Homo sapiens: one gene and its partner. The protein of the gene in region 1 purifies or fractionates together with the protein of each later gene. This does not show direct contact. Each region holds a gene or a part of one and is shown in the gene's direction. Other genes may lie near its edges. The genes, in order: SMIM12 and IL36A.

Region 1 (3,762 bases):
TCTACTAAATCTTACCACTGAAGACGTTGCTGGTAAGGCTGTGAGGGGAGTAAAAGCAGAGAGCAGGAAGAAGCATAAGAAGCTGTTGCCTCTTGAAGCCTACTGATGTTTAACTAAAGTCAGCACAGGGCAGTAGTGAGCATTTGATGAATTGATCTGCCTCTAAAAGGGAGTGGGTATTGGCCCTGCTTCTTAGGTTCTCTCTCGTGAGGCCTGATGGTGTCCACAGGTGGGTGAGGGTGGAGTTCCTGAACAGTTAGAGGGGCCAGCTGTGAAGAGGTGCCAGCTGGAGGTGCCTTCCAGGACCTGGTGGTGGCCTGAGAGGAGGGAGCAGGTTGAGTCGTTGGCTTCTTCTAAGGCTCCCTGAGGCCTAGTGGGAATGCGGAAATGAGCTGCTGTTGCTTCCCAGGGAACAAATCGGATGGAACTTGGGAAGAGACTGTCAGCTACCAAGTAAGGAGATTTCTGGTTCTGGCTGCAGGTTCTGGCTGATGAGCAGGCCTTATCGGCACACCAGTGCTGCCACCCTATGGCAGTCCTGGGCATTACCAAGCCTGCAGTCACTTCCCTGGGCTAAACCAAACACTAGTGCTGACAGAGGTCAGGTGACAAATGAGCCACCACGCTGGCAGAAAGTATAGACCTGCCGAAAGGGGGCAGTGGTGACTCACCTTCCAATCTGCTGCTCATCCAGTGGTACCAGATTTTTGAATTTTTCTAAAAGATGTTCTAAGAGCTCCAGAGGGGGTAAAAAAAAAAAAATGAAGAGATGCTAGAAATTCAGGGTTTTTTGGTGTGTGTAACCTTCTGATTTTCAAGTGTTGATAATTCATTATACAAAATTCTAAGCATGCTATCATACCCGTGGGGTTAATTTGACCCAGTGGCTGCCAATTTGTGACCTCTCAAACTGCCTCCTCCTTCTGATGACACCTATAATTATGGTTTTTTTTTTTTTTTTTTTTTTGGCGATCTAACAACTTGTTACAAATATTAGATCCCAGAATTGGTTTCCCTCAAAACACTTTTGGGCATCCTGTACAAAGGCAGCTTAATAACCTAAGAAAAATGTGAGGATGGAAAGCCTACAGAAATAATAGCAAACACATTTCCCATGGACATTTTTGGATTTTCAGATCTTTTAAAATATCCCTGTCACCACCCGTTGGCCTCCACTTGGTGTCTGGTCGAGAGAGCCCTATCTTTGGGAATCCAGGTGGCTCCCTTCTTCCAGTCTCACTTTGATTGTGCCCCCTTTTAAATTCTTTTCTTTCCTTTCCAAGGGCACTTTGTCACTGAATTCTTCCTCTAGCAAGTCTATTAGTGTTCTCAGCTAGATCTTTCTTTCCCACAGGCTGGCTGAAATCAGCCGTTGCGGTGGCTGTAAGATAGTATATGTGCTCTTGCCTCTGCTCGGGTGACATTAGATAGCAAGGTTTATGTGGACGTGGGTATAGACAGGTCAGGGTTGCTGGGATGAACCAAGGTGCAGACCGGTTTTCTTCCATGCTTGCTGATTCACCTTGGAGGCATGTGACCCTCTTTTTGACTGGCCTTCCAGTCACAGTTCACTGAAACACATGAGTGAGTGGATGTGCTTGGGGCTTTTTGCTCCCCGCTTACCCCCGTCTCTTCCCAGCCCAATGATGGTGGTGGCTTTAGTATAGGGTCCTCTCCGAGCACGGCAGGAATCACTTCTCTCCCTGCAGCGGTTCAGTGTCTGGTGCTTTTCCACTCTTTCTAGACTCTTTCCTGTGCCTGTTGCTGTGTTAGCACAAGTCGGCTGGGCAGCTGCCAGAACAAGCCTGCCAGGGAGCCTTTTGACTCTGGTCAGCTCCCCAGGGCTCCAGGCTGGTGGGACTGCCGCTGAGTGAAACATCATGGAATTAGCCTTGCCAGAGTCTGGGTTGGGAGCCAGGCAGTGAAAATGTAAAAGCCCCTCCGTCTTGCTCACTTTTCCTTTTCTACTTTGCTTTAGATCTCTAAGCACTTGTAGGGTAGGGAGCCAGGGCAGTGTAGCAGAGGAAAAATAAAGTGGATTCTAGAGTCTGACAGGCTCGAGTTATGAATACTGCCTTAACAATTAACTGGATGACCTTGGGCAAGTCACTTAGCCCTTCTGAACCTCAATATCCTCACCTGTAAAATAGGGGTAAGAATTTTTGTTGGGTTGTTGTGAGGATGAGGTAATTATGTAAGGTTCTTAGCATAGTACGCTAAGAACTTTATATACATTGTCACAGACTGTGCTAAAACTTTACATACATTACCTCATCCTCACAACAACCAGTAGGTACTCAGTAAATGTTAGCAGCTTTAATTGTATTGCAGGAAGAACCTATGTTTCCTGCAATAGTTGTGTGTATCCTTGTGACCCTGGTGAGGTGGGGATCTAGGGGAGAGAGCAGCCTTGGCTGAGGGACAACAGGGACCCTCATAGACCTGGTGGTTGAGGGCTGCTTAGAAATATTTCACAGAGAGAACTGGCTTGCATAAGAACCAAGAAGCACAAGCTGGTCAGGAGATTGCAGGCTCCACACCTGCCTTAGTGGTAGTTCCATCAGTGCAGTCTGCAAAGTCAGAGGGAAGCAGATTGGCCAGAATGCCCAGGAGGTCACAGATCAGGAGAATTGGGAGGGGAAAGAGCCTTGGACTTGGAGGCAAGCGATCTGAGTGATGACCTGGGGTATGCCGCTTCACCTCTACTGGCCTTGGTTTCCCTGCAAAATGGGGAACGTGTTCCCTGCTGATCGTGTGAAAAGAGTGAGACAACCAGTTTAGAGTGCTCTGAAAACATGCAAGTGCTAGATATTACAGCCCAGTAAAACCTCCTTTATCTAGTTGGGATGGCAGCCAGTCTGAATAATAAAATACAAATACATGTGCTATTATTTCTTTCCTGTACAGAGCGTATTTTATAGTATTTGCTAAGTAGAAGTCTTTAGGGGAATCAGTTTGAAGAGTGAAGAGTAATTAGTAACCGGTGTATCAGTTTTCATCCTGTTCCAGCAGTGCCTCTGGTACTTAAAAAACAGTTTATTCTTTTTGAATTAAACTTGTTAACATCAATTATGTGTTAATCAGATCCTTTTTACATAATACAAAAGTAAACTCTGGCTTTGTTTTTTGTTAAAAAATGCCTAATGGGCCCTTCTAATTATTCAGATTTAAAAAAATCTTTACTAGCGCCCCAGCAAGGGCACCTTTTCCATGTAGAAGAATCCAAAGTCCTTAGGGCCCTTATTCCCTCTCTCACTGCCCAGTTTCTTCACTTCCAACCCCTGCTGCAATTCCGTTTCTCCTTCTCTGAGCCTAAGCTGCTAAGTGCAGCTGGAGTAATTTGCATAACCATCTCGCCCGGCCCTCTTCCTTCATGGGTTGTGGATGCAACAGAGTCTGCAACACTTCAAGGTAATTTTTTTTTTTTTTTTTTTTTTTTTTTTTTTTGAGACGGAGTCTCGCTTTGTCACCCAGGCTGGAGTGCAGTGACAGGATCTCAGCTCACTGTAAGCTCCGCCTCCTGGGTTCACACCATTCTCCTGCCTCAGCCTCCCGAGTAGCTGGGACTACAGGCGTCCGCCACCATGCCTGGCTAATTTTTTGTACTTTTTTAGTAGAGACGGGGTTTCACCACGTTAGCCAGGATGGTCTCGATCTCCTGACCTCGTGATCTGCCCGCCTTGGCCTCCCAAAGTGCTGGGATTATAGGTGTGAGCCACCGTGCCCGGCCAAGGTAATCTTTTTTTAATCCAAACTCCTCGA
Region 2 (3,918 bases), on another chromosome or scaffold:
GAGCCATTGTGCTTCAACTTTAAGTTTTTTAGTCATAATTGTGTAAGCTGAACCAATTAAGATGTCTATGATATTGGCTATCATTTCTGCTGTTAATATTCAGTCCTCTTCAACTAGGGCACAAAAAGATTAGTTTTTTCCTTGCAAAGTGATGTGGATGGTCTGCTGCTGCAGGTGCTATTTTCAATATTGTCTCACTTCTTAAAATGAGTTATCCATTGTAAACTGCTGATTTCTTTGGGTCATTGTCCCCACAAACTTTTTATAAGCCATCAATGATTTCACCATTCTTCCACCCAAGTTTCACCATAAATTTGATTTTTGTTCTTGCTTCAATTTTAGAAGAATTCATGTTGATCTTATAGGGGCTCTTTTCAAACTGATGTCTTACCTTTCTTAGTGCCTCAAACTAGATCCTGTTCAAACACCTTATAACAAGTTAGTAGGAGTTTATTTTGGTGCAAAATAATTCAAAATCCATGCATAGTTTTTTTCATAATATGCATTTTCCATGAACTTTTTGATGACCTCTTGTATGAAAGGGGATTTATTAGGGGAATGAACTCATGCAATTTTGGAGGCTGAGAAATCCCATGACAGACCACCTGCAAGCTGGAGACCCTGGGATGCAGGTAACATGCTCAGTTCAAGTCCTAAAGCCTCAGAACTAGGAAGCCACTGGTGTAATTCTCACTTTGGGATAGAAAGCCTGAGAACCCAGGGAGATGCTGATATTAAGTCCTGGAGTCCAAAGTCTGGAGTTATAATGTCCAAAGGCAGGAGAGAATGCCCCAGCTCCAGGAGAGACAGAAAATCACCTTTTCTCTGTCTTTTCCATGCCATCCATGCCCCCGGCCAGTTGGATGGATCCCACCTACGTTGAGGGTAGATGTTCCCCACTAGTACACTGACTTACACACCAATCTTCTTTGGAAACACCCTCATAGACTTACCCCAAACTAATGTATTACCAGTTCTTTAAGTATTCCTTAAACCAGTCAAATTGACACTTAAAATTTACTATCACGCTACCTATACTAGAGATAGTGATCTAGAGTCCATTGAGGTGGCTAGAGTGCTCAGGAGCTGGCTTTGCTACAGTAATACTCCCTTCTTCCATGGAGAAGCAGCATGCACAGTGGCTCTGAGAAGCTGGAGGAGGGTCACTGGAGTGAGTGGGCTTCTGGTCTGAAATTGACCAAGAATATAGTTCCTGTGGACCAGGAGTGATTAGAAGCTACAGAGGTCTTAAGAGACCTATCCCTCCTCAGTCTACCTTGCACTTACTGAGGGCTCCCACTCTTAGGAATAATTCCATCGTTTCATTTTGTGGCATCAGAGATGAGTCATTGACCCGGAAGAAGTCCCGTAATGTTTCTCAACTCAGTATCTGTGACTATATTTCCTGCTCTTAAAAGTTTAGCATGCCCTCATGTTTCAGGTTGCTTGGAGAAGTCTTAACCATGCTGTTCACATAAAGAGTCACTAAATCCTCTGGCATCAGGAACTAGAAAATATCCTGAGTGTTGGGCAGTGCCAGACTTAGTGAGGCAGAACTTCCTTCCTTGCCCATGTGGATAAAAGGCCTGGGCCCTGTTACAGCCTGTCAGAAAACCCAAGTGCAGTAGAAGCCATTGTTCATAATGGTAGGGATACAGGGTCCTTCGTAACAGATTATCAGTGTGGCCTATGCTGGAAAGTCTGGTGACCTCTGATTTTTTTTGCTTCCAGGTCTTTGGCCTTGGCACTCTTTGTCATATTAGAGTTCCTGGGTCTAGGCCTGGGCAGGATTCATAGGTGCAGCTGCTTCTGCTGGAGGTAGACTGCATCCAACAAAGTAAGGGTGCTGGGTGAGTTCTGGGAGTATAGATTCTGACTGGGGTCACTGCTGGGCTGGCCGCCAGTCTTTCATCTGACCCAGGGTTAAACTGTGGCTTGGGACTGACTCAGGTCCTCTCTTGGGGTCGGTCTGCACATAAAAGGACTCCTATCCTTGGCAGTTCTGAAACAACACCACCACAATGGAAAAAGGTAAAGATCCTCGTGGAAGGGCGAAAAATTGACAAGGGGGTGATATTCTGTGCTCTCATTCTTACTAATTTACATTTTGACTTTCTCAACAGCATTGAAAATTGACACACCTCAGCAGGGGAGCATTCAGGATATCAATCATCGGGTGTGGGTTCTTCAGGACCAGACGCTCATAGCAGTCCCGAGGAAGGACCGTATGTCTCCAGGTGAGTAGCCACGGTCTGTGAAAGGCAGCTCCTTTGGCCAGTGCTGTTGTGTGTTTGGTGCTCAGATGTTATTCCACAGTGGGCTTGTTAACCGGGCATATCTACAGAGAGGAGCATCTCACAGACAATAATGAATAGAGGGTGAGCATAAGGTTGTTCTGGGACTATGGTCATGAAGTCAGAGAAGAGAGAGAAGGCTTAAGGGAGACTGAAGGGTCAGCCTATGAAAAACAGTGGAAGACGTATTCTGAGAAACTTCAAGGAGTAAGAGTAGGACAAAAGAGGGTAATCTATGGGAGGACCAGTTTTTGAATCCATGAAAGACTGACTTTTCTAATGGAAAGTGTTCCCCAAACATAGGATGGGTGTCCCGGTTAGGTGGTGGGTGGTGAGGTGACCATTCTATGAGTGCACTGTGAGTGTCAGTTAGCAGATTCCCTTAAAACTCTGGCTCAGAGGTACCACCCTGGAAATGGCAGCTGAACACCACTTTTCACATCGTGTTCCCAGTCACTATTGCCTTAATCTCATGCCGACATGTGGAGACCCTTGAGAAAGACAGAGGGAACCCCATCTACCTGGGCCTGAATGGACTCAATCTCTGCCTGATGTGTGCTAAAGTCGGGGACCAGCCCACACTGCAGCTGAAGGTGAGTGTGGAAGACAGGTCCTGCCATTTATTTGATGGAAACTCAGATTTCAGGATCTTTTAAAAGACAATGTACTTATTATGCTCATGCATTTTTATTTTTGGTTTCCTTGGGGTTGGTATATGTTATGAAAGACTAAGAAAAATTGCAGGGACATTTTGAAACAAACCTACTAAAATGACTTATTATTTTAATTTACAAAAATATTAATAATTTGGCAAGGATGATGTCTAACTTCAATAGAACACACACACAGAGTAAAATCAGCAAGGACATTTTAGCAGTTAATTATCACAAAGTAGACGAACTTATTAAAACATCTTTTTGGCAAAAAATACATTGCAACTTTAAATGAACAAACATAATTCTCTGTAATAAACACTTCAATAATCGCAATTTTCCATTATTAAAAAAAGATAATTATAGCAGGCCTCTGTGTACTACAGGAACTCTCTTGACCCTTTTCAGTAAACAAGCATAAGCAGACACTCAACTTGATGACAAGATATAAAACAGTGTTTTTCAGCCAGGGGTGATATTGCTCCAGGGACATTTGTCAATGTCTGGAGATGTTTTGGTTGTGACAACCTGGGATGGGGGTGTGATACTTGCATTTATCGGGTAGATGACAGGGATGCTACTAAACATCCTATATTATTATACAGGACAGACCCTGAAAACAAAGAATCATCTTGCCTAAAATGTCAATAGTGCTGAAGGTGCAGAAACCTGACAGAAAATAACTGTTTTAATTTGAAATTTACAGTAACTGTTACATAAATATTCTTTAAGTTTCTGTTTCTGAACAACAAATAATGGCCCAATCAATGCTTTGTATTCTCAAAAACTTTCATGTCAACACATTTTTCAGAGCCTCACATTAAAAACCATTAAAATTTGTAGCCTGAGTTTCAACCATAATCTTAAAAGAATTTAATTTATATGATTTTCAATCCCATAATATGAAACAGAGGTCTCCAAGCTGCTTCAATGAGTAGGGAATGCTATCCTTGGACGTGGAATATCAGTGT

The links.
Region 2: the proteins of SMIM12 (region 1) and IL36A purify together in Homo sapiens (affinity purification with mass spectrometry; one large-scale study listed by BioGRID and IntAct). This does not show direct contact.

What each region holds. Positions count from the first base shown.
Region 1 is NC_000001.11:34,849,669-34,853,430, reverse strand, and holds the end of SMIM12 (small integral membrane protein 12), read left to right. Parts: 3' UTR 1-3,069; downstream 3,070-3,762.
Region 2 is NC_000002.12:113,003,851-113,007,768, forward strand, and holds the start of IL36A (interleukin-36 alpha), read left to right. Parts: upstream 1-1,608; 5' UTR 1,609-2,021; coding exon 2,022-2,031; intron 2,032-2,123; coding exon 2,124-2,237; intron 2,238-2,747; coding exon 2,748-2,887; intron 2,888-3,918. UniProt on the Homo sapiens protein: Cytokine that binds to and signals through the IL1RL2/IL-36R receptor which in turn activates NF-kappa-B and MAPK signaling pathways in target cells linked to a pro-inflammatory response.